Regions from separate parts of the Homo sapiens genome. Here regions 2, 3, 4, 5 and 6 are each linked to region 1. Evidence: fine-mapped expression QTL. A gene starts in region 1. Each other region holds a variant in brackets. All regions are shown on one strand. Distances are between the middles of the regions. Region 1 holds the start of AFDN (afadin, adherens junction formation factor). Region 2 has its middle 30 kb from the start of LINC02487. Region 3 overlaps AFDN (afadin, adherens junction formation factor). Region 4 overlaps LINC01558 (long intergenic non-protein coding RNA 1558). Region 5 overlaps AFDN (afadin, adherens junction formation factor). Region 6 has its middle 31 kb from the start of LINC02538.

Evidence for each region. PIP is the estimated chance that this variant, and not a neighbour inherited with it, causes the effect.
Region 2: its variant is the best candidate, but not a certain one, in a credible set for the expression of AFDN in whole blood (INTERVAL, PIP 0.75).
Region 3: its variant is the best candidate, but not a certain one, in a credible set for the expression of AFDN in NK cells (Gilchrist 2021, PIP 0.62).
Region 4: its variant is the best candidate, but not a certain one, in a credible set for the expression of AFDN in blood mononuclear cells (TOPMed, PIP 0.68).
Region 5: its variant is the best candidate, but not a certain one, in a credible set for the expression of AFDN in Th1/17 cells (Schmiedel 2018, PIP 0.61).
Region 6: its variant is the best candidate, but not a certain one, in a credible set for the expression of AFDN in whole blood (TOPMed, PIP 0.65).

The regions. Positions count from the first base shown.
Region 1 is chr6:167,824,245-167,829,350 of GRCh38, reverse strand. AFDN (afadin, adherens junction formation factor) reads right to left here and starts at 2,440. Exons shown (of 34, transcript NM_001386888.1): 1 at 2,114-2,440. The coding sequence starts at 2,218. AFDN-DT (AFDN divergent transcript) reads left to right here and starts at 2,555. Exons shown (of 2, transcript NR_027906.1): 1 at 2,555-3,948; 2 at 4,545-5,106. RefSeq lists silencers at 2,288-2,487, 3,402-3,471 and enhancers at 2,638-2,717, 2,748-2,817.
Region 2 is chr6:167,723,796-167,728,906 of GRCh38, reverse strand. No RefSeq gene overlaps it. Among named protein-coding and RNA genes, the nearest start is that of LINC02487, 30 kb to the right of the region's middle. The variant A/C (reference allele first, on the strand shown) is at 2,580.
Region 3 is chr6:167,945,200-167,950,199 of GRCh38, reverse strand. AFDN (afadin, adherens junction formation factor) reads right to left here. Exons shown (of 34, transcript NM_001386888.1): 27 at 3,299-3,493; 28 at 2,256-2,347; 29 at 1,722-1,907. Among named protein-coding and RNA genes, the nearest start is that of HGC6.3, 32 kb to the left of the region's middle. The variant A/T (reference allele first, on the strand shown) is at 2,479.
Region 4 is chr6:167,789,587-167,794,697 of GRCh38, reverse strand. It overlaps LINC01558 (long intergenic non-protein coding RNA 1558), which reads left to right. Exons shown (of 4, transcript NR_026773.1): 2 at 3,605-3,751. Among named protein-coding and RNA genes, the nearest start is that of LINC01558, 4.7 kb to the left of the region's middle. The variant A/G (reference allele first, on the strand shown) is at 2,582.
Region 5 is chr6:167,844,644-167,849,643 of GRCh38, reverse strand. All of the region lies in intron 1 of AFDN (afadin, adherens junction formation factor), which reads right to left. Among named protein-coding and RNA genes, the nearest start is that of AFDN, 20 kb to the right of the region's middle. The variant G/T (reference allele first, on the strand shown) is at 2,625.
Region 6 is chr6:167,645,776-167,650,886 of GRCh38, reverse strand. No RefSeq gene overlaps it. Among named protein-coding and RNA genes, the nearest start is that of LINC02538, 31 kb to the left of the region's middle. RefSeq lists a silencer at 2,992-3,192. The variant T/C (reference allele first, on the strand shown) is at 2,966.

The DNA.
Region 1 (5,106 bases):
AAAGATACAATATGTTAAATGCAAAGCTTAACTAGGACCAGAATAAATTTAATAGTACAGGAAAGTTCTCGAGAAAACAAAATAGAAATGTGAGCCAGCCACTATATAGTAAAAAAGCTAAAAAACCAATATATGGACATTCTTAAAAACCATTCATTTCATTATGAAAGGCTTCTAATACAATTCTGAAGAATAATTTCTAAAAATGGAAATGTTCAGATATAAGTAGGGAGAAAAATTAGGAAATGAAATATATCATCTTTTTTTCCAAGTCCTTCAATTCTTGTTTTGCTTCAGTGTATGTACAAAGCAAACTTTCACCTACAGTATAACTGAAAAAACAGCTTTCCAAATGACAGGCCAATTTTAAAAACTAGTCATATCACTAAGAAATAAAAAGTTTCAATTGAGTGCTTAAAATAGAATTTAATTAAATCAATGAACTATAATGTTTCTGATTTGAGATTTTTTTAATGCTAACTCAATTCAAAATCCCAAAAAGCTGAATTCTCTTTATTAAACCGAAAAAAGATTCCTTTCCACCAGACTTGAGAAATCTCTCAAAAAAAAAAAAAATCCATTCAAACAAAAAAAAAAAGCTACACACCAAGAAAATGTTTTATGGTCAACTTTTTTTACCTTGTGATAAAAAGAAAAATGAATTCATTATTCTAAAAGAAAACATAATCCTGAAACTAAATTATCATGTCACCTTTCTAAAGATACACTAGTCTATGAACGAACACTTAAGTACATAGTACTAACTCCCTTACTAGAACCTAACTCATAAAATCATTACAGAAGATGAATGAATCAGGAGTAACTTAACATAACATCTATGCTCAAATTGACAACCTGAGCCTAATGGCGTGTGTCAGTATTCAACTCAGTATTAAGACAAATGGCTAGCTACCCACGTCAAGTGCAGTCACAGGTACAGATGAAAACAGAAGAAATAGAGTCCTTCCCATGACTGGCAAAAACTCAAGAAATCAGAGAAGCAATAGTCAAATTCTCTCAAAAACATAAAGTGGAATTTAATGATAAAAGGATTACATTTCGTAAGAATGTTCAAATCTGCCAAACATGTTTTGTTGCCTAGGAGCTAGTATTTTATAGCAAGTATTAACTATAAATTACCTATTACAACAAATCAAAAATAGACGCTATTAAAATGATTTCCTAAACGGGCACAAATATTGAGTGAAATTTTTTTATGCTGGTAAAGTCTGTGCAGCCACCGAATGAACAGAGCGCGGAACCGACCCTTGCGGAGCGATTTACAGGGTTGCTCCCCGACCCTTCACCTCCCTCCCCTCTCCACGGAGCCCTTCCTAGTGGACTTGGACTCAAACATTTTTTTAAAAGCTGCTCGGAACGCTTTCAGCAGCTTTGCTATAAACAACCCCCATTGTTACCAGGCCAGGAGCGAGCGTGATTTCCTCCTCCTCTCAGGGAGCCAGCCTGGGGCCGGCGCCTCCCTCCGGGCAGAGGCCGCCGCAGAGGGCCCTTCCTCGCGGCCCCGAAGGTGGAGAAGGCGCGCCTTTCCTCGGAGGCGTCCGACTCCGGGCCTGTGCCATCAGGCAGCCCGCACCTCCCGAACTTTGTGATACTGACTTTCCCCTCCCAGCTGGCAGCCTGCAAGTTTATGAACCCGAAGCACAGCGCGCGTCACAGGCTCCATCCCGGCCACGGCGAAGGGGCGCCGCGAGCCACAACCGGGCTGCAGGTGGAGGGCGCCGGCCCCGCGCGCCGCCGCGCCCCCCGCGCCGCCGGGGATGAGGCCGGGGCCGCGCCGCGCTCGCGGGGGTGGGGGCGGCGGCCCAGGTGAGCCACCAGGTGAGCGGCCGGAGAGGGGAACAGGTGACTGCCGCGCCCCGCCAGCCCCCGCTCGGCCCGCGCGACCCCGGGATACACCGCGGCAGGGGGACGGGGGCTGCGGGGGACGCCGGGGCCCGCGGTGGGCCTGGGGGAGGGGGAGGGGAGAGAAGGGGCGGAGGGGGGAGGGGGAAAGGAGGGCGGGTCCGCGGCTGGCGGGCGGCGGCGGGGGGGAGGGGCGGGGCGCGGCGCAGCGGGCGGGGGTCGCGCAGGCCCCGCGCCCGGCGGTGCTCACCTCGGTCGGCTGGCTGATCTCGAACAGGTCCAGCCGGTTGGCGTTCCAGTGGTGGATGATGTCGGCCAGCTTCCGCCGCTCCTCGTCACGGCCGCCCGCCGACATGGTCCTGGCCGCGCCTCCTCAGCCGCGCGGGGCCGGGGCCGGAGGACGGGCCGAGGACGACAGGTCCGCGGGGGCCCGGCGCCCCTCGCCACCCCCCGCCGGCCGCCTCCGCCTCCGCGGCTGCCTCCGCCTCCGCGGCCGCGCCGCGTCCTCCGACTTGGCCTCCGCCTGGGGCTCAGTCCGCGCCGCGCCGCGCCGCCTCAGCCCCGCCGGCCGGTGTGCGCCCGGCGCCCGCCGCCCGCCGCCCGCACCCGCCCGCGCCCCGCCCGCCGCCGTGCGCGCCGCCGCCCGCCGTGCGCGCCGCCGCCCCGCGCGGCGCCGCCGCACCTCCGGGCCGCTCCACTAGGTGCTGCTGCCGCGGCCGCCAGGGAGGGAGGTGTCGGAGGGCGGGCCCCGCGCGGTGCTAGGGTTCCGTCTGGACTGGCGGTGGTGGGTCCCAACCGGCGGTACCGGGTTCCTTCCCGACCAGCGGTGCTAGGTTCGGTTCGGACGCGCGCTGCTGGATCTAAATGGGCAGTGCTGGGTCCGATGGGTGGTGCTGTGTTGGGTCCGGACGCGCGGTGCAGAGTCCGGACGGGCGGTGCTGGATCCAAATGGGCGGTGCTGGATCTGGACGGGCGGTGATGGGTCCGATGGGCGGTGCTATGTTCGGTTCGGACGGGCGGTGCTAGGTCTAAATGGGCGCTGCTGGGTCCGATGGGCGGTGCTGCGTTCGGTCCGGACGGGCGGGGACGGGCGGTGCTGGGTCCAAATGGGTGGTGATGGATCTGTGGACGGGCGGTGCTGGTTCCAGACGGGCGGTGCTGGGTCCAGACGGGCGGTGGGTCCGATGGGCGGTGCTAGGTTCGGTTCGGATGGGTGGTGCTAGGTCTAAATGGGCGGCGCCGGATCCGATGGGCGGTGCTGGGTTCGGTCCGGACTGGCGGGTCCGGGTCTGGACGGGCGGTGCTGGATCCAAATGGGGGTGCAGTGCTGGATCTGGACGGGCGGTGCTGGGTCCGAACGGGCGATGGGTCCCATGGGCGGTGCTAGGTTCGGTTCGGACTGGCGGTGCTGGGTCTAAATGGGCGGCGCTGGGTCCGATGGGTGGTACTGGGTCCGGACGGGCGGTTCTGGGTCTGGACGGGCGGTGCAGTATCCAAATGGGCGCTGCTGGGTCCGGACGGGCGGTGCTAGGTTCGGTCCGGACGGGTGGTGCTGGGTCTAAATGGGCGGTGCTAGGCTCAGCAGGGGACCGGTGGGCGTGGCGGCACAGGTACGGAGCGCAGGGCCGGTGGAGCGCCCTCTCCGAAGGGCCCTGCGCTCCCCGCGCTCGCTGCTCCTCCTGCCCGCGCATTGCCCCGGGGCTGCTGCGTGTTTCTTCCAGGGTGATTCCTTTCCGCTGGGTCACTTCAAAGCCGACCTTTTCAAGCTGTTTTCTTCCGCGGAGGACACGTTGTTAGGCTTTGTGTGCATTTCAAGGGTCATGTTTTCTGAACCGCGCTCTGCCGCTCTTGGGGTGTTCGAGCCCCCACACTGCTGTGCGGTGTTCCTCTCACAGAGTGAGGTTGGAGGGTCCCACTCCCTTTGTGTGTCTCCTTAGAAAACGCCTCTTCTCTCAGACACATCGTTATCTGCCAATTCTTCGCAGACGTAGAGAACGGACTGCAGAGTTAATAAACGTCGAGGGGAAGCTTTGATGCGCCCCATTTGGCCCTGAGAGATGCCACGTGATCGTCATTTTAAATCCTGTACGTGTCCCCGTGGACGTGGAAACCTGAAATTAATTTCAGTAGCAAGCTTTGTGAATTGTAGGGATTTTTTTTCATAAGGTGTCTTTTTTGTAATTGCCCCTCCCCTCCCCCACCCTTTGTTTTGGCTGCAGAGCGCCATCTCTGCAGTCTCCCCACGCCGGGTTCAGTCAGGCGAAGTTGCGTTATCTGTGATGTGTTGTAACAAAAAGCGTTTATCTTTGAAACACTAAGGCAAGTAATGAGAAGAGTGAACTATATTTGACAAAGCCTTTTTATTTTTGTCATTACTTTTTTTTCCAATGTGGAAATAATTTTTCTCTCCACCAACTGGATTTCCTCTTTTGCAGACAATTAAAGAATTCTGTCATCCCCACTGGGTTCTGTCTTTTCTACCGCACTTGTCCAGTACAGCTACATAAGGAGGCTTCTCAGCAGAGGAGCCTGGGGTGTTGAACCAGTGCCATGAGGGAATGAATTATTCAATAGATCGCTAGTCTCCTTTCTTAAAATTAAAGTGTGGTGACTTGCAGAAAAGCATCTGTGTCTAAATGTCATCTTCGTGTTCTAGCACTCGGTTTCTTTATGCCTTTCAGTTCCTGGGCTTCCCGATGGACTCGAGTTTTTACTATGTGAGCATCCCGGTGCCTGCACAGCAAGGACTCTCATTGGGTTCCACACGTGCTGCGCAGATCCCTGACGCAGCGTTCACTGAACCTCAACTGCAGGAGCTTCATTCCTGAGGACGCTGTTACCAAGAATGACTTGCCTCTTGAAGAATGAGTTTGCAAAGCCGGCAGTTAGATTGCTGATGTCCAAAGTAAGTATGTGTAGCATCACTAAAGAGAAAATTCAGGATTCCTGGAAAACAGTTATGGGCTCTCTGCAGTGTTATTTTTGTAATAAAAAACATATAGCATATGTGAAATACCTACTGGGTGATGCAGGACACATAGAAGGCTCGAAATTAATGTGAATCATTCTCGTTTTTCTGACTGTCATTAAAAGTCCCCATTTGTATTATGTATGAGTGGTATATCAATATCTAAACTACACTTTATTGTAGGTCCCAACCAACATTAGTTTATTGACAAATGTTTAAGAGCAGCCAAAAATTCATAGAATACCTATGATTCTTAAATCATGAACACTCCCATA
Region 2 (5,111 bases), 100 kb after region 1:
TTATTTTCTTATTGTTGAGTTTTAAACGTTTTTGTACATTTTGGATAACAGTCCTTTATTAAATATGTCTCTGCAATTATTATTTTTTTCAGCCTCTGGCTTACCTTTTCATTTTCTTCACAGTGTCTTTTGCAGACCAGAAGTTTTTGAATCACGTCCAGTTTATCAATTATTTCTTTCATAAATCATGGATTTGATGTATCTAAAAGTCATTGCCAAACCCAAGGTCATCTAGGTTTTCTTCTATGTTACCTTCTAGGAGTTGTGTAGTTTTTTGCATTTTACAGTTATGTCTATGATCCACTTTGAGTTAATGTTTGTGAATGGTGTGAGATCTGTGTTTAGATTCATTCGTTGAAGGATGTTCAGTTGTTCCAGCATTGTTTACTGAAAAGATTAGCTTTGCTTCATTTTATTGCCTTTGTTCTTTTGTCAAAGACCAGTTGGCTGTATTTGTGTGGATATATTTTCAGACTCTATTCTGTCCCATTGATCTATTTGTCTCTCTCATATATATATATATATATATATATATATATATATATATATATAGCCAATACCAGAGTGTTCTTAGAGTAAGATGTAGCTTTAGAGTAAGTCTTGAAGTCAGGTAGTGTCTGTCCTCCAAGTTTGTTCTTCTCCTTCAATATTGTGTTGGCTAGTCTGGGTCTTTTGCCGCTTTTTATAACCTTTAGAATCAGTTCGTCAATATCCCCAAAATAACTTGCTGGGATTTTGATTGGGGTTGCATTAAATCTACAGATCAAGTTGGGAAGAATCTTGATAGCTTGACCATATTGAGTCTTTCTATCCAGGGACATGAAATATTTTCCTTCTTATTTAGTTTTTCTTTGATTCCTTTCATCAGAGTTTTGCGGTTTTCCTCATATAGATCTTTTGCATATTTTGTTAGATTTATTCTTAAGGTATTTCTTTTTTTTCAAGTGCTCTAATATCAATGGCATTATGTTTTTAATTTCAGATCCCCCTTGTTCATTGCTGTTATGTAGGAAAATGATTGACTTTTGGATATTATCTTGCAGTCTGCCACTTTGCTATTAATGTAATTGCTTGTTAGTTTCAGGTGTGTTTTCTGTGGTCATTTCTCTCAGATTTTCTACATAGACAATTACATCATCTGTAAACAAAGACAACTTTATTTCTTTCTTCCCATCTATATACCTTATATTTTATTTATTTGTTTATTGCATTAGCTGGGACTTTTAGTATGATGTTGCAAAGGAGTCTGGAGAGGCGACACCGTGCCTCGTTCCTGGTCTTAGTGGGAAAAGTTTTGAGTTTCTCACCAGTAAGTGTGATGTTAGCTGTAGGGTTTGTGTAGATATTCTTTATCAAGTTGAGGGAAGTTCTCATCTATCTCAGTTATCATTTTTAATAGCTGAATAAAAGGTATTACATCGAGTTCATGTTCAAAGCTGGTTAAGGCACCATCACCGTGAGGTTTCCATGCATTGCGCAGTCCAGAGTCCATGGTTATGGCCCTTCAGTTTCAGATGAAGAACAAAACCAGAGAAAGGCCCCAGAGCCACCCTGGAGTGTGGGGTGGAAAACACCAAGAGGCCTGTTTTTCCAGACCTTCTTTGAAGAGCTTCATCTTCAGGTACCAATGCAGTGGGGGTGGGTGTCAGAGGAAGGATGACTAAGTTGGGGCGCCCTCATGGCAGGGACAGCTTGGGATTGGGGACAACGCTCCTGTGTTGGCCTTCTGCATCTGGTTTAATTCTGTCCTGAGAGACATCAGCTCTGTTAGCTCCTGCCATGTCTCCAGAACCTCAGAGCTATGGATAAGTGAATGAACTTTACTACCTGATTTATGAGAAACACTTTGTGAGTGTTTTCCATTTCTTTTCTTCTTTAAAAAGGACAGCAAGAAAGAGACAAAAAAGGGAAGAAAGAGGACCTATTTCTGTCTCCTTATCTCCCTCCCACAGCCTCCTCTGCCTCCTGCCACTGTCCCTTCCCCAGTATTCCGGTGGCCCCTGGGGTCTGGCTTGCTGGTGCCACAGCTGGGAAAGATGCTGAGATTTCAGAATGTCTAGGTCTTAGTATCACATCGCAACTCTATTTCAGCATTTTCAGTGTTGATTTATAGTCAATCCTACTTAAAGAATATGTTCTAGAAATTACTTTAAGAGATTATCTAAACACGAAAACTTAGCCACCCTAGCAAGGACGTGTCCTCAGCTGAACTCTTGGTCAGCCTTAAATTATGTTTGATAATAATAATATCAAAAACCGGGTCAATAACACTGTCTTGTTACAATTGGAAAGGTGTCGTTCTCTCAAATTGTCATTTCCAAAGCAGGACTTATTTTCTTCTCTTGAACTCAAGGTAAATTCTAGCTGAGTGAACAGCTGAGAAGCCTGAACTCCTTTGTTAGTATTTTCAGATGAGGGCCTCTAATTGTCAGGCAGGAGTGCTGGATTCATGAAACTGGCTTAGGGCTGCTTTGGGCTTTTCACTAGCATATTTGCAAATGAGAAGAGAATTGGCAAGTGAAGATCCAATTTGCTCTGCCAATCACCCTCCATTTTCTCTTTGTATTTCCTATCGAGAC[A/C]GACAGATTTTAAATGGCTGAGCAACCTTCCGCGCTGGCTCAGGAACCTACAGTGTCAGTACGGAACAGGTCCTTTCAAACGGATTGGAAGAGGAACGTCAAACAGCATCTCAGAGGGCTCTTGGCATTGCGACCCAGGGGCTGCATTTCCATGTTATCTTGCAGACTTGTACAGTTCCCAAGCAGTGGCATGGAATGAGAATGTGGTCTTAGGGCTCTAATTCTCTATCAGGGCACTCCTACCTGGAGACCAGCTGAACACAGAGCAAAGTACAATTTACCAAGATAGAGAAAATTTGATGCTGGTGAGCATTTCAATCTGAAGCAGAGCTGGGCTACATTGACCAGCACGTGAAAGAGGGTGGGGAAGGGCAGCTCTGCCATGAGCATGAACCCACCAAATGGCCCAAAGTCCTGAGTCTCCTTTGTAGGACCACAGGCAATTCATGCAGCCTCTCTCTCTGTTTTCCCACCTGTGAACCTGAGGACTGTGATGATGCCCTGTTTGCGGAAAATCAAGATCAGAAACCTGAAAACACTTTGCGGGAGTCACACTCTCTACGCAAAGTATATATACATTAAAGGTAAAACCATATGATGAAATATTTTTCTATTGTGCTGTTGCTGAAGGTTGGTGAAACCAAAGACAAGGCACACTTAAGTTGCCAGAATAGTCAAGAAAAAGAACTGAGGTGAAAAATTGGCCCTATCAGATATCAAGACACAGTGAGAAGTGATTGGAATCTGTGTGATACAGGTTCAAAAAATCATTTTCATTGTTTAAAGTCAAGAGTCCGGACTCATTCAAATTAGTAAGGGGAATTATGGGTTATTTAATAAATGCTGTCAGGACAATCATTTATGTGTTTGGGAAGAAGAGATCCCAATTCACGGTATTGACAAAAATAATTTTCAGATAACTGAATGTTGTATCAAAAATTCTAAAACTTACACATGAAAATATGTTTCAGTTTTCAGAGGTGGGAATGGGTCTTCTTAAGATCCCAAAAGACAAAGAAATAAAAGATTGATAAATTTGATCTCCTAAAATTTTTGATGTTTAAAATTTTAAAAATAACTTTTATTGGAGTGTCATATACAAGCAGAAAAGAACACAAATCTGTGACTTCCTTTGACTAGCAGGATGGTGTATAACATGCTAGGTGATTTCACGGCTGGGGTTTGGGATATCTGCAGTTTCTGTTACCCGAGGCTTGGAATCCTCCCTCTTAAAAGCAAACTGTGAGAAACTCAAGTCTCATGAGGATAACTGAGGCACTGAGCTCCCAGCCAGTATCCAGCTTCCTGTATGTGAGTGCGCCATCTTGAACTTTCCAGCATGGTTAGTCCCTAGGATTGCAGCCTAGTGCAGTGGAGCCAACTCTCAGAAAATAAAGGTAAAACCTTATTGTTTTAAGCCACTAAGTTTTAGGATGCTTTGTTATGCACAACAGATAACAGAAATACTTCTTTCTTCACGGCTGTGCAGAATCACTTTTATCATAAACCAAGCATCGCAAGGAGAGTCTTGTTCAGGACTCTCCTGTTCCATTGCTCCAGTCCACCAATACCACAGAATTTACTTGGATCTCTTTATCTCAGTAACATGCGGAAGTTCTCTATGTAGAGTTCTTGCACATTTTGTTTGATTTATTCCTTTTATATTTCCTGAATATGCAATTATGTCATCTGCCCAAACTAGAGGGTTTTTTTTTCTTACTTTCTAATCCTTACGGTTGCCTTTTTGTTTTTTGTTTTTTTTTAATAGAACTGGCAAGGACCTCCAGGACAGTGTTGAATAGAAGTGTCAAAAGAGGCATCTCCCTCACTGCCAGGCTCAGAGGGAAAGTTTTCAGTATTCCGTATTATCTGCGATATTGGGTGAATACTGCTCTTTTCCTTTGTAGATACCTTTTATCAGATTATGGACATTCCCTTTTATTTCTAATTTGCCAAGAATTTTTAAATTATAAATGTTTGCTAAATTTGATTGCATTCCTTTTATTGCACATTTGAGATGATGCTGTGGCTTTTTCCTTTATTCTACTAATAGGTTGAATTATATTCATTGATTTTCAAATGTTAAACCAGCCTTGCCTTCCTGGTGTACATCTAATTTGGTTGCCATGTACTTTCTTTTTCTATGTTGTTACATTCAGGTTCTTTTTTGGTGTCTATGTTTTAAAGAGACATTGACCTGTAATTTTTCTTTTTGTAATATTCTCACCAGATGTTTAGTGTAATGGCTGTGCTGGCCTTATAAGCACACATTAAGAAGTTTTCTTGGCTGGGCGCAGTGGCTCATGCCTGTAATCCCAGCATTTTGGGAGGTGGGCAGATCACCTGAGGTCAGGAGTTTGAGACCAGCCTGGCCAACATGGTGAAACCCCGTCTCTACTAAAAATACAAAAAAATTAGGTGGGTATGGCGGGCGCCTGTAATTTCAACTACTTGGGAGGCTGAGGCAGGAGAATGGCTTGAACTTGGGAGGTGGAGGTTTCAGTAAGCCGAGATCATGCCATTGCACTCCAG
Region 3 (5,000 bases), 120 kb before region 1:
CCAACAACAAAGATGAAGTATCACTTCAAAAAGCAGTAGTCTCACAGAAAAATGGAACATTTACTCCCAACATTTTGCTAGAGCTTTACTTAGTACACAGAGTCTCATTACTGGGGTATAAAATCTATGGACCACATAAAAACAGAGACTGTGCCTACCGCCGCTCCCTGCTGCCGGAAGGGCTGACCTGAGTCACTTCTCTGCTCCCTTAAGACTTTGCACTGGCCCCGGCTGCTGGCTCGCACTCTCCACCTCCTCGCTTAAACCCCATCATAACTTTTCATTCCACACTCTGGCCTGCCTCTCAGTTCCTCAACTCTCTCCTCTAGGTATTGTTTATCCATGTGAGGTAGAAACAAGTAGCAGCTGTATACTATAAATGTGAAGACGTAATGCCAGCCCCACACAACAGGAAATACTGTGCATAAAAATGGGATTCAATGTATGCACTACAAATTGGGTTGTCTTGACATATGGGAAGCAGATTCTCCTACGTTCTAACAAAAGATACTAGAAGGACTAGGGCACAAAATTACTCAATTTTTAAAGAGAAATTTGGAGAAAGACACCTTCTCCCAGATAACTCCAGCTTTTGGTGACAGAGTGCATCCAAAACTCCCAAGACTGGGCCGTTGCAGGTGATCAGGCCCACCTAGGAAAACAGCAGGATGGACCAGCACACCAGACAAAAGGCCAAGATGAAATCTCCTGATAGCCAACATCTGTGGCCTGAGGAGCATTTTCTGCCGTCAGAAAACAGGCTCCTCCTCATCTGTATCACAGCGTCCATCTCCTCAGTGCAATCCTCTCTCCGCTGCCTACTGTTCTCATTCTTCAAGGCTCAGCTCAAATTCCATCTCAACTCTGAATTCTGTCTTTTCCAACCACTCTAAGAATGCTAATCTTCAGAATTCCTAGAGCGTCTGCGATCCAGGGCATGTATTTGTCACAGATCCTAGACTGTAACTATTTTTAAGCATACCTTTAATTTCTTCTCCCAATCCTTCACCATACAAACAGTTATCTCTCTAAAAAGAAAACCACATTGGATAACGTTCCCCAGCTTAACTACTCAGATTGGCATCACCCGTCTACTAATGTGGACAAAAATCAAATTCCTTAGCTGTCATGTCAAGCCCTTCTGTCTGGCCCCGCCTATCTTCACTGCCTTAGATCTTGCCACCCCTTTCCCCTCTACCCAGGGTTCCTGCTGAACTACTACACATCTCTGTGCCTTTCCCTCCTCCTGGAAGGCCCTTCCGTGCATACAGCTGTGCCCAGGTTCTCGTCCAAGACTGAGAAGCTCCATCCCCTGCTGGGGCCTCTTCTCCCACAGCACTGACCATGCTGTGTCTGTTGTGTCTGTCTCATTTCCCTGCCACACCATGAGCTCCCACAGGCAGGGATAGCTCCTGATACAGTGCAAAATACACCACTTGAGTTCTAATTTCTCACTTCTAGAATCAGTGAACTTTGTCTTAAAAATTGTAAGGCCTTATATTCCTAACATTTTGTTAATCAAACATCAGAGAACAGATAATCCTTTTTCTTATTAAGTATTCTATCCTGTCTCCTTTTTTCCTCAAACTTAACCACAAAACCATTAAAGGAAAAACAAAAGGCCAACAATGCTGTTCTATAGAAAATATTAATTGTGTCTCAGAACTCAGTGTGTCCTCCTTGAGAGGTGAGAAAAGTGTGTGGAATCTTTGATTTCTAACCTGAATTGCAATACTGGAATGATTACTATCTGTGTGCATATGTGGCTTTTCCTCATAATTTGGCCACTGGTTCTGAGGAGGAGCCATCCGATCCTGGGATTTGGAAGCTGGGAAGGTAAAATACTCTCTGGTGTACGTCTGAGTGGGGATGGGGTAGGCTTCAGGTCTAGGCGGAGGCGTCTGCTCCTGTAAAATGTGAAGAACAAAAAAAGTGAGCTTTTTACAACCATACAGACTAACTTGATTTTCAATGATCTGTTTTAAAATTTAAAAAATAGTATATGTTAAATACTGCATTAAAAAGTGTTTGATCCATACTGAGAATAAATAACATTTCATTTTGCCCAGACTTATTAATTTAAAACTGATTTACCTGACTAGTATATTAAAAATCAAAAGATAAAACACTGCAAATTTAGAAATTATAATCAATGCTAATTCAGAGTAAAAATTGTACTAGATAACTGAGATGTCCAAAGGGAACCCTAAGGATGGAAATGCAGTAGAAGCCTTTTGCTTATCAATCAATCAGACCTCAGTGCAGAGGTTTCCAGTAGAGACAGATGTTATCTTCGCTGTTGTTCCAGAGGCATATGCACTTTTCCCTCCAGGACTAGGAGGCTGATCTGCTCAAGTCAGGGGGGAAAAAAAAAAGTGTAATATTAAATAAACAACCTATATATAACATGAAATTTCCTTAAAGACCTCATTCATCTTCATACTGCTAGTGAGTATCCAGCACAGAGATGAAAAAAAA[A/T]AATCAAGGCAGGTAAGAAATCAGGTCTTGTCATATCCACATCCATCTTTTAAATAATCAGAGCCCAGAGCTACAAAAAAACCTTTGTAGCTCTGTGTATCAGGCCAGGGACTGGTAAACATTTTTGGTAATAGGCCAGAAAGTAAATACTTTAGGCTTTGTGAGCCTTTGTCTCCTGCTGCATATCCTTCTATTATTTCTTCTTCTCTTTGTTAACAACCCTTTAAAAATGTAAAAAATATTGGCTGGGCATGGTGGCTCAAGCCTGTAATCCCAGCACTTTGGGAGGCCAAGGCGGGCAGATCACGAGGTCAGGAGATCGAGACCATCCTGGCTAACATGGTGAAACCCCGTCTCTACTAAAAATACAAAAAATTAGCCGGGCGTGGTGGTGGGCGCCCATAGTCCCAGCCACTCGGGAAGCTAAGGCAGGAGAATGGCATGAACCCAGGAGGTGGAGCTTGCAGTTAGCCGAGATCGCGCCACTGCACTGCACTCCAGCCTGGGCGAGAGAGTGAGACTCCGTCTCAAAAAAAAAAAAAAAAATGTAAAACATATTTTAGTTTCTCTTGGTAATTTACCAACCCCAAATAGAGATGTTATTAATGTATTTGCTTATGGGATCAACTGAATCTAAAGTTTTTCCATCTTAGTTTTTGTTAGAGAAATGTTACTTATGATATCCCTTATGAAAACCATATCCTAGTTAGCCAATGTTTGCAGAGAATAATTTTAATAATTAACAAACCACAAAGTGCCTCCTCTCACTTCAGACTGTGATCACAAGTGTACTTAGGAAGCAAAAAAGTGTCACTCTTACTTGCTACGTTGGGGCTGGAACGGTGATCAGCTCTATTTTTCATCAGTCTGTCATCACCAGGCAATTTCTTTGGTTCACTATATTCTGCCCAAGGCAGCTGAGGACTCTCAGGAGACCCATTTTGAGTTGAATTATTATAGAGCTCAAAGCCTTCACTCTTTGGTCGGGGTTTACCTGAGCCACGACGATCTGAAACTGGAATCAAAGCATATTCAGTATCTCTTAAGATTTTATTTTCAACACCCTGATTATCATTAAAATTCCATAAGAATTGTTCTTAGCATAAGAAATAAGGTGATAAAGGTCAATTCTTCCTACAGAATCATAAAACAGCTTTTAAGTAAATATACTGAGAATAAAGAAAATATTTTTACTTAATTAGTAATGATGGGAAGATAAACACTTTCAAAGCTTATTTTCTCATTAACTGAAACTTCACTATTTTAAGCAACAAATCTAACCATTTTTAAAGTATCTTTAAAAAAAAAATCAATAAAGATATATATGTTTCCCTGACTTTGTAGAAAAATATCTGAACTTTTAATCGCCCAGCGTCATCGTTCTGAGCAGCCGTCATGTGACGTGAGCCTTCCGCTCCTGGCGGCCGCTTCTGTCAGTTCTCCTCCTTTTTGCTTGCTCACCCTGGTTTATCATCTACTATTCACAGCTTCCCTCTGTGATTTCTAACTCACATTCTAGTTTGCTTCTTTTAAATGACCACTAACTAAGAAATTAGACAACCAAGATGTTAAGTTCTACGTGACATAAAAAGTAAACAACATGCTGAGCAAGGCAGACAATACCACACGAGGTTTTGTTGAGCTGCCCCTTGGGTGGTGTGTGTTTGCTTCAAGAAGCAGCAAGTCACGTTCTCTGATGCCTTGGCTGTGGCTGTGATTTGTTACTATTAGGTACCAACTTGAGGTTCTGGGTTGTGAGGTTTCTAGAATCCTGCCTTACGGAGGAGAAAGCCATAAAGGCCATATTTAGAAGTCTATGTATACATTTAACAAGTTGTGCTATGAATCACAATGGTTTTCTCCTATTGTGTCTGAACTAATTATTTTAAAAGCCCTAAATTTGTATTGATTTTATCCTGAGATTCTTTTTGATGTAGCTGTAAAACCACAGTTCCAGAAAATAAATTATTTAAATAATTAAGATGTTTAAGTGAATTACAGTCATGAACCAAATAAGCCCATTTTGGTCAATGATGAACCACATCCGTGACAGTGGTCTCCTAAGATTAAAACGGAGCTGAAAAATCCCTATCTTCTAAATGATCTTAGCCAGTGTAAAGCTGTAGTACAATGATTCCTCGTGTTTGTGGTCGTGCCAGACTGCACTGCTAGCTGTATACAAGTATAGTTCATACAATTATACACGGTATATAATACTTGATAATGTAATATGCGACTGGGTTGCTTGTTTATATATTTTACTATACTATATTTTTTATTGTTATTTTAGAGTGTACTCCCTTTACTTATAAAAAGAGTTAATGGTCAAGTAGCCCCAGGCAGGTCTGTCAGGAAGCCTTCCAGAAAAAGGCATTGTCACCACAGGAGGTGATGGCTCCATGGCATGTCACTGCCCCTGAAGACCTTCCCGTGGGACCAGATGTGGAGGTGGAAGACAGTGACACTGATAATCCTGACCCTGTGCAGGCCGAAGCTAATGTGTGTGCTTATGTACGAGATTT
Region 4 (5,111 bases), 35 kb after region 1:
CCTTAAAGAACCTTATCCATGTGAAACCAAGACGTCCCACCCTCCCCTTGGCAGGGCTGTTATATGACAACTCTCTGCAAAGGCCACCTCCCAGTGTGGTGGGAACCAGGGCCAGTCCCACACATGTGCACATTCTCCAGGTGGCGTGCGAGGCTGCTACGCTTGCAGGAGGGCTCTGAGGTGGCCGTGTGCCCGGACCTCTGCAGAGGCTACGGTGACAGAGGGCTCAGCAGAGTTACCTTCCACTGTGCACAGGAAGGAATGTGCCCTGAGTGCTGAGCTAAAGAGGAATACAGGGAGGTTTTCACCTGCGCCGGGCCCCTGTGCCACTACCATCTATTCATTAACAGATGTTTATTGAGCAGCGACTATAATTCAGGCGTTGTGTGCGTGATGGTAGCAAAACAACAGGGGAAGAAAGTCCATCGCCTCTCCCTTCCTGGAGCTTCCATATTGGTGAAGGAGATGGAAAGTAAAATGAAAAGCAAATATAAAATTACATATTTTACTATGTGCAATGAAAAAATATAAAGCGTGTGGTGACAGAGAATGGCAGGGAATGGATACTTAGTGTCATCAAGCAAGGATTTCAGAAGAATGCATCAACTTGGGGCTTGTGAGAATTAAAGACAGTTTTCGAAGCACTGAAGTGAATGAATTAATTTGGGCATAGGGGACTGGGACAGCTAGAGGGGTCTCAGAATCACACTCTGTGATGTGAGCAGGAGAAAATCCACCAGAAGCATGATGATGACTCCCAGGCTCTAGTTGGATCTTCTGGAATTTGAACAGAAACCTCAACAATTTTCTTTTGAAACTCTAAGATGCTCCATGTGAGGAGGACTTTTGGGCAGGTTCTTATCAAACATTATTTCAAGTACCATCATAAAATAAAGGAAACTGTGGCCTCCGTGGAGGCAATAAAGCGTCAATATTTCAGCAGTTATTCACACGCTTGTTTACACTGAAACCTGCTCCATCGACAGGTGGTAGAATCATTGTCAGGCTGGGCTCACAGACGTTGGTGTTACCAGGCGTAGGTTATCAACGCCCATGCCCAGAGGCCCTGGAAAACGGTGACCGAGGATGAATTAAAGGAAATTACACCAACAGGGCAACATGCCTGACATATTTCCAGAAACAGAAACAAAAGGATCTGCATAGCTAGGCCAGACCACAACACCATCTTGTAGAAGCACATCAGCCTCAAACCACTGCAGAAATGGACTTTGTACACCACACTTAGAAGAAGATATTCTTAAGGACTGTGTTTCAGTGTTAAACTTTACAGGCTAGGGAGATTTTTAAAAAAAATCATAATTCTTTGATTGTCTTTTTTTCAGCACAATGGTTTAAAATGATCCAGCTGGTTAGAAAAATGTCAGCATTGTCCTCACATGAAACATTGATCCACATGGGCACTGACACATTTCAGCTTCAATATTTGACATCAGATCAATCTTGCCTTCTCCTGCATTAGCAGCCCAATATTCAGGCCTGCAGACTGGAGGCTGCTGCACCTGGCTTTTTGCCATACGGGCTGACCCTCCCTAATTCAAAAACCTGGAATCCCAAATGCCCTGACATCTACAATGTTTAGAGCACTAACCTCATGCCACAAGTGAAACATTCCACACCTGACCTCATGTATTAATCTGTTTCCATGCTGCTGATAAAAACATACCCAAAACTGGGAAGAAACAGAGGTTTAGTTGGACTTACAGTTCCACATGGCCGGGGAGGCCTCAGAATCATGGCGGGAGGCAAAAGGCACTTCTTACATGGTGGCAGCAAGAGGAAAATGAGGAAGAAGCAAAAGCAGAAACCCCTGATAAAGCCATCAAATCTCATGAGACTTATTCACTATTAGGAGAACAGCACAGGAAAGACCGGCCCCCGTGATTCAATCACCTCCCCCTTGGTCCCTCCCACAACATGTGGGAATTCTGGGAGATACAATTCAAGTTGAGATTTGGGTGGGGACACAGCCAAACCATATCACCTCATGTGACAGGTTGCAGTCACAATGTAACCAAAATTTCATTACATTTACAAACTATTAAAAATATTGTATAAAATTACCTCAGGCTATGTGTATATAAAGCATGAATTTATTTTGTGTTTCAACTTGGGTAGCATCTCCAAGATGTCTCATTATGTATACGCAAATATTCCAAAATACGAAACAATAAAACACTCAAAACACTTCTGGTACCAGGCATTTCGAATAAGAGAGACTCCACTTGTACCAGCTCCGTATCCCACGGCTTTTGCAAAATCTCTATGACCTGGTGCTAAGGGACCTTTTGGGTTTAAAGCACTGCTTGTGTTGCTGATTCTGAAAGGGTTAAAGGGAGAGTAATCATTGATGGTGTCCCACAGCCATGCCCGCAGCCTGTCAAGCACAGGGAGGTTGAGAGAGAGAGCGGATTGGTCCAGGCGCAGCCACCCCTTCACTACCAAGCGTGCACTCATCCCAAGAGCCGCCACCCCGCACCCGCCAGGAACTGATCAGGAAGGAACAAGAAGGACATGGTTCTGTCCTCAGGGAACTTGGGGATAAATAACATATGCAATTAAG[A/G]TGTAAGACAAAATATATTCGTATAAAGTGCAAAAACACAGGCACATCACTCTCTGCCTTCAGAAGTGAGGGTGCCAGAGCTTGGTGCCTGGGAGTGGCCCGCAGAGGGTTCAGGGCTGCTGTGTGTTCAGGTTGTTCATCTGGCTCTGCTGATGAGGCTGAGTGCAGGCTGTGAAAATTCATCAAGCTGATACTTTAAGTGTACTTTCTGTATGTATGTTCTATTTCCATAAAAAGGGAGAAGTGAAAAAAATTAATGAGAAAGAAGGCTTGAGTTACAAAATCAGAAATTTCATCAGCTAGTCTACCTCTCTGCCGCCTTCTTCTCTGCCTGGGGTCTCTGCCAGAGTGGGCAGCACAGGAAGCTGCTGGACTCTAGGTGCCTTGCCGCCCTCAGAAACTCCACATTTCACAAAATGGTCAGATGCCAATGCAAATTAATGACGTAAGTTTATGTTGCTAAAATGATGACCCCAGGCAAAATAAACTCTTGCTTAATCCATGCTTTTTCTGGCAGCTTCACTTACCAAGGCTCCAGGTGACGCTGGGGTGTGCTGCTGGCCACTCACCTCACATGCTGCCCAGGCTAAGCTTGGATCCCCGGCTGCCCCCAGACCCCACGTGCTGTTGCCTGTACTGGGGCCGCCCCATCACCTGCTTGGTGCCCTGGTGCTCAGGGCCAGAGCTGGTTCAACTTCTGTATCACTGTGATGTATTTTCCTTCAGCTTTTTGAAAACAAACTTTTCAAGAAGGAACTAAGATCACGCAGTGTTCCCAGCACTGGTTAATATTAGACTAACACCTGCCCCGTGGTACATTTGATTGAACTGTGTTGTGGGGGAGATAACTGTCCTCCCTAAGTTCCCTGAGGACACAGCCATGTCCTTCTTGTTCAGTTCCTGGTGGGTGCTGGGTGACAGCTCATGGGATGAGTGCCGTGAAGGCTGTGGTTGATGGGCTGATGAAGGGGTGGCCGTGCCGGGACCCACCTGTCCTCCCCTCCTTCTCCCTGTGCCATGCAGATGTGGTCAACGGGCTGATGGGCACGGCTGTGGGACCCCATCATTCCCCTGCCCCGCATGACTCTGCTCTCCCAGCTCGACTGCTCACTTCAGACTTCCCTTATGGAAGGAGTTGCCAGATAGAGCAAGTAAAATACAGTGTGCCAGGTAAGTGTGCATTTACAATGACCATGGATTATTTTTTGGCATAATCTAATACATGGTAGTAGAGTAGGGTTGTATATAGTGTTATCTCAATCTAGTATAAGTTAAGAAATTATCTGTGGTTGATTGAAGTTCAGGTGGACCCAGGTGCCCTGTATTTGCCTGCTGCATGCTAGGGTACTGCCTAGCACACTATGCTGGGCCAATGTGTGTGTGTCTTAAGGGAAGGGCAGCTTTTCATCGTTCAACTCCCTGAAATTTTTTTAAGGGAGAGGGGACCAAAAAAACCCTTCATTCCCTCAAGTGAAATGTCTCACCCACTGCAATGGCGATAACTCGGAGGGTGAGTGGAATGGATGGAAACCCTTGAAGAGCAGATAAGAATTTAGGTGGAGGGTCCTTTGCTCTCTCAGGCAGGTTGGTGGATGCATGGGCTTTGGGCAGATGCCTGAAGCGGGGTGGATGTCCTGAGTAAGAGAGAGTAGGGTGGGTGGTGGGGGGTAGGGGCAGATGGTGAGGGGTAGGTGTGGATTATGGGGGGTAGGGGAGGATGGTGGGGGGTAGGGGAGGATGGTGAGGGGTAGTATTGGGTGATTGAGATGGGGTGGATGGTGAGGGGTATGGGTGGATGGTGAGGGGTATGGGTGGATGGTGAGGGGTATGGGTGGATGGTGGGGAGATGGATGATGAGGGGTAGGATTGGATGGTGGGGTTGGGGAGGATGGTGAGGGGTAGTATTGGGTGGCTGAGGATGGGGTGGATGGTGAGGGGTGGGGTGGATGGTGGGGAGCAGGGGTGGATGGTTGAGTGCAGGGGTGGATGACGGGGTATGGGGTGGACGGTGAGGGGTAAGGGTGGATGGTTGAGTGCAGGGGTGGATGGCTGAGTGCGGTGGTGATGGTGGCATGCAAGGGTGAATGGCAGGAATGGATGGTGTATTGTGGGGATGGATGATGGGGGTGGGGGTAGGGGTGGGGGGTGGTGTAAGGGTGGCTGGTTTAGTGCAGAGGTAGATAGTGGATAGTGTGCAGGGGTGGATGGGGGCATGGGGGTGGATGGTGGCATGCAGGGGTGGATGGGGAGGGTGAGGCTTGCATCTCTGGTGAGCCTTGAGTGAGACTGGAGCCTGTGGGTTGGAGCTGCTTCATCTACAAGGAGACAGGAGAGTTTTGTGTGGTGTTGACATTGCTATTGTATTATTCTGCCTGGGTTGCTGTCTGTGGACTGGGTAGTTTCAGCTTAAACCACATACATTGATTCCTCACAGTTCTGGAGGCCGGAAGTCCGAGATCCAGGGGGCAGCAGGCAGATTGCATTTTGAGGCTTCCAGACTTGCCCAGCAGCCCCTGTCCCTCTATGCTTG
Region 5 (5,000 bases), 20 kb before region 1:
TTCTAAAAAGTACATTCTGAAACAAATTCTTTAGGTAAGTAATGGAATACACAATAGGCATGAACTCAAAGACAGGGATACAGAATATGATAAGAATATGGTAAGATGTGTAAAGTTCCATGAAACAAAAACCTCAAAATCACTGATTGGGTTTTTATAACATTACACTGTTCAAAAAAATCTCATATAAGGATACTTTTGAAGAAGGTACTATCATTTCTAGCTATAATTGAACACAAAATAAGAAACGGCAACAAACAAGAATGCAGAGTCAACCTAGAACATACAATACTAAACCTAAACATGTTGCTGGAAATCTCTCCCCCCCCACAAGTTACATTACATGATACAAAGATAAACATATAAAATCAAGGGAAAGAAAAAACCCACAAATACTAATGATGACAATGCACTACAAATAACAACAGTATAAATGCCTGCCTTATGCTAAACATTGTGCTAATAAGTACTTTTTATGCGTTATCTACTCCAATTTTCACAACAACCCCATAAGGTAGGTATTATTACTGTTCCTGTCTTACAGATGAAGAAACGGGGCCTAAGGAAGATCAAGTAAGTGGACCATGTTCACAGAGCTAATACCAGTGGGCCAGAATTCATACTCTGGCAATTTTGAAACAAGTCACTTTCAACCACTATGCGGCACTGCGTCTCATCCTGCTGTATAAAAATAAGGGTGGAAAACACCCAGTTCCAGCAGTATGGCAGACTAAACAATCAGTAATCATTGTACTATACAATAATACAAAATGAACATTCTGTTTAATACACAGCTGAGTCTGTAAAAAAGAGAAATCCAATTAAAGGGAAGTAAAGGCTAGATGAACATATGAAAACATGCTCACCGACGGAAATCAGGGTAACAAATTGAAATTATTATTTCAAATACTTTAGAGCATATCAACAAATCTGAATATATTGAGGAGGGTGAAGACTGAAGTTTGGAATATAAATTGGTAGAACCATTTCCAAGATCAATTTTGCAGGACCTAAAAAATCTGAATCTAAATATTCCACTTCTAGGTATTCATCCTAAAAATTTTACATCAGTACAGAAGAAAACATGGACAAGACTGTTCATTAAATCCACATTTGTAACTGTGGAAAAGTATATACAATTTATTAATCTCTGGATAGGGACAGAGATAGAATACGGACAACAGAATAATGCAAAGCTGTTAAATAAACTATATCTACTCATATGAAGTTTCACGTCAGTAGTTTTCTTGGGGGAGGCAGAAAGGGAGAAAGAAAACCCTTTCGCTATGTCTGTAACTCTTAATTCCTTAAACTTTCTGGACACTATTTAACTAAAAGAAATGTAAATAATAGTAATATATCCTTTGCTGATGTGGGAATCAAATGAAATAAGAGACTGGTTGTAATGCCTGAATCACTGCTAGGCATGGAACATGTTGTCAAAGAAATGTGACCATGATAGTTACGAATAAACTCAAGCCAAGGTATTCAAAAAGCTTGCCATTTAGGGAGGAGCTCCTGTTTCACCAAAGTGCTACCCCCACAGTTTCACATAGGGTAAATCAACAAAGACTTCTAGGATACTTGAGCAAAGCCTAATTGTAGGGAAAGAACATTCTAAGCCCAGGGAACAAGTACTAAGATCCCAGGCAGAATCCTGGTTGGCATAACTGACAAATAGCAAGCAGGCCCCTTGTGGCTATAGCAGAATGAGAAAGTGAAAAAACGGTATTAGGAATAAGGTTTGTAGGTCAAGGTACACTGAGTGATTAAAAAAAAATTGGGGAGTCTGAATAGAAACATTACATTATTTAACTTAAGGTTTAGAAGTGTATGTCTGTGTAGGAAACAGACTGTAAGGGGGCAAAGGCAGACAAGGGAAATAAATTAAGACTAAGTAAGAGGTTACTGGAACAACCCAGGTGGGAGATATGAAGTTAGCCTGGATTAATTCAGTAGTAAGAAGCAAAGATGGTGAAAAGTGGTTAAATTATAAAAATATTTTGAAAGTAGAGCTGACAGAATCTGCTGCTAAGATTAGATATGATCATGGTCTGAGAGGAAGAAAGGAATCCAGAAGAATGCCAGGCTGTGGACATTAGCAATTGGTAAAGTGAGCTGCTGTTCACTAAGACTTAGGAGAGGGCTGAAGAAGAAGCAGATGAGAGTGCGGTGCCGATGAGAGTGCAGTGGTGGGAAATCAGAGTTTAGTTTTGGACAGGCTCACTTTGAGATGCCTAGAGTGCACCTAAATAGAGATATGAGGGACTGGCTATATGGGGCTGAAGTTCAGAACAAGGGCCAAACTTAGAGATGTAAATTTGGAATATATTAGCACTTAAAACCACAAAAATGAAATATTTCACCTAGGGAATAAGTGGAGAAAAGAGTGTGTATTGGGATCAGACCCTGAGGTCTGGGCAACAGGCCAGTCCTGAAGACCAAGTGAAGGAAGAATTTGATGGAAGATGTGATCAACTGCTGCTGCATCAGAAGATAAACGACTGGATGTGTCAGCATGAAAGTCTTTAATGACTTTGAGGAGAGTGGTTTTCGTGAAGTTAAAAGCTGCTCCCACTTACGGTAAAAAAGCAAATGAAAAGCGTTCTAAAATTTAACTTTCA[G/T]CTTTAAAATTAAACAAACTGACAGAGTATAGACATACCTCACTATTTTTTTATTGTACAGATGACAGGTTTGCATCAATCAAATAACTAAACTGGCAAAACAATAATACAATTATTGAATGTCTTAACGCAGATTCAGTTGACGAATTATATTAAACAATATTTGATTTCTACTAACTCAGAGTTTTAATTATGACTTTTCTAATAGATTAACTCCCCTGAAAATGCCATTTCCTAGACATCCTATACTCCTCCCCCAAATCTCATAGAAGATTCTCTAAGATACATTGAAAAAAAAAAAAAAAACAACTTGGTTTTTTTTTTAAATATTATACTTTTTTCAATCTTCAATTATTTTCTTTACTGTGATGTTTGTGGAAATAAACTGAAAAAAAAAGCCATTTCATAAATATACATCACAACAAATAAAAAGTTAATGAGAAGTTTTAAGTAATCAGACAACCTTAACTATTTACAACTATCAGTAAGGCTAATTTCTACAAAGCTCATGGCTTATTTTTGAACTTTTAAAAGTTCACGCACTGGTTTTCGGGGAGTTTTGTTTATGTTCATTTATCCCCAAAACAGAAAAAAACACCCCTATAGTTCATTTTGAGAATCTTCTCAAAGTCACTGAAGTAAAATTATTTTAGTATTTTTGTAGTCATATGAAAAATTAGGAACTTAAAACATCTAAACTAGTCAACATTTAAAGATCTCATTAACAAACCTACATCCAAGGCTTCTTTCGATACCACGCAGTCCAGTCACAGAGAGTTTAATAAATTTGAACCTCATTTAAGGAAAAAAAAGACCGCCCAAGCTCTGATAAACTGCTACCTACTAGATGTAAAAGGAATGGGGTCCAAGCTATCCGCTGTAACTCAAGTGATATGGTTTGGCTGTGTGCCCCCACCCAAATCTCATCTCGAATCATAATCCCCTTATGTCAAGGGAGGGAAGTGATTGGATCATGGAGGCAGTTTCCCCCATGCTGTTCTTGTGACTGAGTGGAGATCTGATGGTTTTATAAGCATCTGGCATTTCCCCTGCTTGCACTCACTTCTCTCCTGCCACCTTGTGAAGAAGGTGCTTGCTTCTCCTTTGTCTTCCGTCATGATTGTTAAGTTTCCTGAGGTCTCCCCAGCCATGTGGAACTGATTCAACTAAACTTCTTTCCTTTATAAATTACCCAGTCTTGGGTAGTTCTTTATACCAGTGTAAAAACAGACTAATACACTAAGATATTTTGGGTTTTAAAAAATAAGTGCTCACTCAGTCTTTTTAGTTAAATTTCAAGTCCCCTAAAAATAAGAAAACAAAGTATTAAGAAATATTCATTTAGGCCAGGCGTGGTGGCTCACGCCTGTAATCCCAGCACTTTGGGAAGCCGAGGCAGACGGATCACCTGAGGTCAGGAGTTGGAAAGCAGTCTGACCAACATGGCGAAACCCTGTCTCTACTAAAAATACCATCTGCCTGTAATCCCAGCTACTAGGGAGACTGAGGCAGGAGAATCGCTTGAACCTGGGAGGTGGAGGTGCCAGTGAGCCAAGATCGCGCCATTGCACTCCAACCTGGGAAACAAGAGTAAAACTCTGTCTAAAAAAAGCAAGAAAAGAAAAGAAAAAGAAAAGAAAAGAAATATTCATTTAATAGCAAAAATACCATAAAATCAGAAGACCAAAATGACTGAGTAGGAAAAACTATTTATAAACACAGTAAAACATCAAAATGTTTATTTAAAAAGGATTTTCCATAAAAATTGACGAGAATAAAACAAATTTCTTGACAGAAAAACAGGCACTTCACATAGAAAGAAAATAAAGATGGCAAGAAACATTCATGAAAGATGCCCTGCTAAGTGCAGTGGCTCGTGTCTGTAATCTCAGCATTTTGGGAGGCCAAGGCAGGCAGACCATTTGAGCCCAAGAGTTCAAGACCAGTGTGGGCAACATAGTGAGACCACATCTTTATACAAATTTCTTAAAAATTAGCTGGGCATGGTGGCACATGCCTGTAGCCCCAGCTACTCAGGAGGCTGAGACGTGAGAATCATTTGAGCCTGGGAGGTCGAGGCTACAGTGAGCTATGATCGCGCCACTGCACTCCAGCCTGAGTGACAGAGTGAGACCCTGTCTCAAAAACCAAAAAAAAAAAAAAAAAAAAAGAAAAGAAAAGGATGCTCATTCTCAACAATGAATAAGGAATTACAAATTTTAAAACCAATGACACATTACTTTTTACCTGTCAGACTGAAAAGTTTAATTCATAATATGCAGTGTTAGGTAAAGGGTCATAGTCACAACAGTGGCAGCATAAACTGGAGGGCCCCCTACCTTTTGAATAATAACTTGGTAGTCTATCAATATTTTC
Region 6 (5,111 bases), 180 kb after region 1:
GCTTCCCACAGCATCGCAGAGCACGTGTGTTTTACACCCAGCTGCATGGAACTTCGGAAGATAGTTAATTATATCCTGTCAGTGCATGCTAAGTTTTTGCATTAATAACATATTTCTGCTGTGTTTTTATCCTCTTTTGCTTATGGAAAGCAAAAGTTCCATGAAAAATTCCAGAAAAATCTTTTTCCATAAAAAAGTTTCAGAAAGCCCGGTAAAGGTATCGTCCGAAACGTGTAGGCAGCTTTGGTTCGGGACATTTGCTTAGTTCAGTTATATAAACTTTATTACAATTAGATGTCCTAAAATAATAAAGAGAATATATGAAAGTTTAAGTGCCAAGAATGGTCTAGTAATCTTAACAGTAACACCTAGCATTTACTGAGTGCTACCACATGCTAGGAATTCTGTTTTAAATATATCGCCCCATCTAATCCTTTCAATGAGGAGTGGGTGAGAACACAGCCAGAGAGGTTCAATAACACACCAGACATCACACAGTGATCAAAGACGCATGGGGATTGGAACCAAAGTCTCCTGGTTGCAGAGCCTGCACTCTGTACCTGTATTCGGAAGGTCCTTGTTATTCACTTACGGTGAATTTGCTTAAAGGGAGTACCAGAAAATCAAAAAAATAGTGATAACCAGTTTGGTTTGGGACATTATCTTGAAAGGTGAAAATCAGAAGATAGGCACATAAATGTATTTTCTCACATATACAGGAAAATTAAGTTTTCACTTCTGACTAGTACTTAAAAGAAATGAGAAAGGAATCAAATGGGCGTTGGGGGGTTGGTGTCATTTTCCCAGTAGAATTTTACGTGACGTGATCCTGCCTTTCACCCTAGGTAGCTTCTGTGAATGTCTGTGTCAGCCTTCCCAAGGGCCTCTCTCTGATACTCAGATCATCTTCTGGGAATTTGTGGTTTGCCATGGTCTGTGTTGCGTTCCTCGTCCACTGCCAACTGAAGATGACCTTCCCAGCCTTGTTTCTGTGGGTGAGGGTAGAATAGCCGTCTCATGCGGGATCATGCCTCCTGCGAGATTTGTATTTTATTTTGTAGTTAGTTCTCACTGTGTACCAATGTTCAACCTTCCAGCCAGTGAGGAGCTGCTGTACCAGCCCTTCTGTGTTGAGCTGAGTATCAGCAGATATTGCCCTCCGCTCCCCCTTCCCTGCCCTACAGACTTTGGGTTTGGTCATGTGACTGGCCTTGGCCAATGGAGTGTGGGTGGCCATGATGTGATCAGAAGCTCTGAATGAATCGTGTGCTTGGCTCGGACCTTGGGCTCCTGAGAAGAATGCGTCTAAGGAGGATGAGAGGCACTAGGAGAAGACTTAAACCCAGCCTGCAGCTTGCACCCAAGACCAGGCAAACCTCGCTTACAAAACAGCCACCTGCCCCAGGCCAGGTTTTGATTTTGTTTCGGGTTTTTTTTTTTTTTTTTTTTTTGACGGAGTTTTGCTCTTTTTGCTCAGGCTGGAGTGCAATGGCTTGATCTCCGCTCATGCAACCTCCACCTCCCGGGTTCAGTGATTCACCTGCCTCAGCCTCCCCAGTAGCTGGGATTACAGGTGCGTGCCACCGCGCCCATTCCCAGCTGATTTTGTATTTTTAGTAGGCACGGGGTTTCACCATGTTGGCCAGGCTGGTCTTGAACTCCTGACCTCAGGTGATCTGCCCACATCGGCCTCCCAGAGTGCTGGGATTACAGCTGTGAGCCACCGTGCCCGGCCTATCCCGGGTCAGTTTTAATCACATGAACCACTGTGGACCTGCAGGTTGTGAGCACAGAATCGAGTTTCCTGGCATAGGTTGGAGTTTTGGAGTCACCTGTCCCACAGCCTGTTGCAGCGACAGCTCCGTGATGCACTGACTTCCAAAGACGTAGCCACACTGGGCAGAGTCAGACATGACATTGAAGCAGAGAGGGGTGTCTGGCTGTCCCTTTATTGGTGGACAGCTTCATAATTTTTGCTTTCCTCACAACCGCACAACTGTGGGGACTCTCATACTGTTTACTGGGTTTTCCAGGACTTTGCAGAAATAAATCTCAGGCAGGCCTGGGGTCTGCCCCAGCTGGGGCAATGGTTTATGTGAAAATTTAACTTTCAATTGTCCCAGTTTAGCAGGAAACACGGAGCTGGTTATCAGCTACTTCCATGTGGCATGTACTTTGGCACTTGTTTCCAGAACAGTTGGGGGAAGAGGAGTGGAAAACAGTGCAAAGAACTCTGGAAAAGGACACAGTTGGGTGTCTCCCAGGCCCTGAAGGGATTCTTAGACCCAACAGAGAGTGGCCTCGGTGCTGGGTGCTAGACCGACTCTCAAATCTCAGCATTTCTGAGCTGCAAAGGAGGAGGGCACAGTTCCTTATTGAAATAAATTATTCAAATTTATTGAAATGTCTCAAAAGGAGTTGAATTGGCCATGATCTAACTCCTCTTCCCTTCTTGCCCACCAACTCCCAAGAAAAAGTGGAGGTGGCCAATCACTGGGTACAGAAGGAGACAGAAAAGGAAGGGAGGGGTGCCTCAGGCTTAGGGAGAAGCTGCTCAGTAATGAGCTCCAGTGGGGGCTGCTGAGCCACACCCCCCAGGAGAAAGAGGCCCAGGGGGCCTGGCTCCCTTCCTGGAAGACCAATGACCTTCACGGCGGTGGTCATCGAAGGGTCTGGGCCAGGAGCTCAAGGAGCCTTCAGGTAGGGACATTTGTCTCACATGCATTCAGCTGCAAAATGAAAAGCAAAGTGAAAAACTCCCCATAACTACAATGAGCTGCAGCGAAAATGTGTGCACACTGGTCAGCATGCTCTGCTCTAACCCTGGGCAGCGATAATGTGTGCACCGGTCAGCATGCTGTCCTCTGCCCCTGGACAGCGATAATGTGTGCGCACTGGTCAGTATGCTCCTCTCTAACCCTGGACAGCGATAATGTGTGCACCGGTCAGCATGCTCTCCTTGCAA[T/C]AATGCGTGCGCACCAGTCAGCATGCTCCCCTCTGCCCCTGGACAGTGATAATGTGTGCACCAGTCAGCACGCTCTCCTCTGCCCCTGGACAGTGATAATGTGTGTGCACTGGTCAGCATGCTCTCCTCTGCCCCTGGACAGTGATAAAGTGTGGACTGGTCAGCATGCTCTCCTCTAACCCTGAATAGAGATAATGTGTGCACCGGTCAGTATGCTCCCCTCTGCCCCTGGACAACGATAATGTGTGCACCGGTCAGCATGCTTTCCTCTGCCCCTGGAATCCAGAACTAATCGCTGGCCCCAGTCCTATTTAGGTCCAAATGAAAAAGCAGCCATTGATCAGCTTTTTTGTATTCTGACAAAATCACACCCTACTGTGGGAGCTTTGTTAAACTCTATTCCTTGAGTCATCTAGAGGAATGTGACTGTGCTTCCTTCCTGTTTCTGTAAATTGGTCACAAAATGCAAAAACGGTTTTGGAGTCATGGCATGGCTTACCAAACTCAGTCAAAATTTGCATCTTTTCTCTTTATTTTTTGAATGATCAGTGTTGGTTTTTTGAGGAAATATAAACTTCTGATCCTGGGCTAGCAATGACTGGGAGTCACCATGGGAGCCCTGAAGGTGGAAGTGAAGTGTGGACATGGTATTCCCGTTAACTTGCAGGATACTCCAGATGTGTTGATGCCTTCACGAGTTGGCTCTTTGGCAGCCCAATAATGTGAAACTAAAGAAACAGCTTAACTTAAAATTTGGGGGAAAGTTAAAAATCTCATTTGGACGATTTTTACTATTAATTCCATTGAATTCTCTAATATTCTTTGTTGGCTTACAGGAAGTTGGATTGATAAAAATCTGAGGTTGTGATGTAATATTGAGGTTTCTTGATCAAAAAGACTTGAAGAAATTAAAGTCCAATATTAAACTTTTCTGTGATAAAAAGTGAATTAATGACTCAAGTGTCCAGACAGTGAGATATTAAGAAAGTTTATAACAATTGTAACAAATTCGTGTAGGTGTCTGTCTCCCCTCCTTCGCAACTTTGTGAATTGTCTGAATTTCTTTCTCTGGTGCCAGATGTTCTGTTTATGTTTATTCTTTTATTTTTACTTGCTTTGTAAAAATGTAGAAAATACAATCTCAAGGTGAACCACACTACTACCGCTCAGGTCAGTGTATAGACGGTCCTGTGGGTGATGGTGATCACAAACTGTCCCGCAGGAGGAAGGCATGGTCCTTGGCTCAATGGGAAGCATCTCTCTACCCTTCCTCACGTATGTTGCCTGTGCTGTGCACCCCGGTCCACAGGGTCCCATGTGTGTGGACGGAGACAGATGCATGGTTGGGTTCTGGGGGCTCCCCTACTCTGCGGCATGCAGGTGGCATTGGCTCATTTCATTGCCATCAGTTCTCCCATTGAATGCATGTTCTTTAATGTTATCCCCAGTAGAGTCTATAATTTCCTTTTTTCTTTTCTTTTCTTTTTTTTTTTTTTTTTTTTTTGAGACAGAGTCTCGCTCTGTCACCCAGGCTGGAGTATAGTGGTGTGATCTCTGCTCACCGCAACCTCCACCTCCTGGGTTCAAGTGATTCTCCTGCCTCAGCCTCCCGAGTAGCTGGGACTACAGGCACGCACCACCGCGCCTAGCTAATTACTGTATTTTTAGTAGAGATGGGGTTTCACCATGTTGGTCAGGGTGGTCTGAACTCCTGACCTCGTGATCTCCCTGCCTCGGCCTCCCAAAGTGCTGGGATTACAGGCATGAGCCACCGCGCCCGGCCCCCTTCTTTCTTAGTCACCTGGAGTGAAGCAGTGCTGGTCGTCGGGGGACACGAGGACCTTCCCACTTTGGAATCAACCCCTGAAGTCTAGCTGGGGAGAAATAGGAAAGAAAAAAAGTGGAGATTCCTGTTAAATATGGGGAAGGTTCTATAATTTGAACCTATCGTTAACATGTGATAATATATAAGATGACACAGGAAAGCAAATAGAAACATTAAAAATAACAGGCTTTCCTATTGGAGCAAAGCAAATAAAAACTTAGATACATTGGATTGGGTCAGATCTCAACTCTTCCACTCATTATCCATTTCTGCAGAGTCTTTAATGAAAAATAAAGAAGAATTCAAAGTCAGGGGTACCGT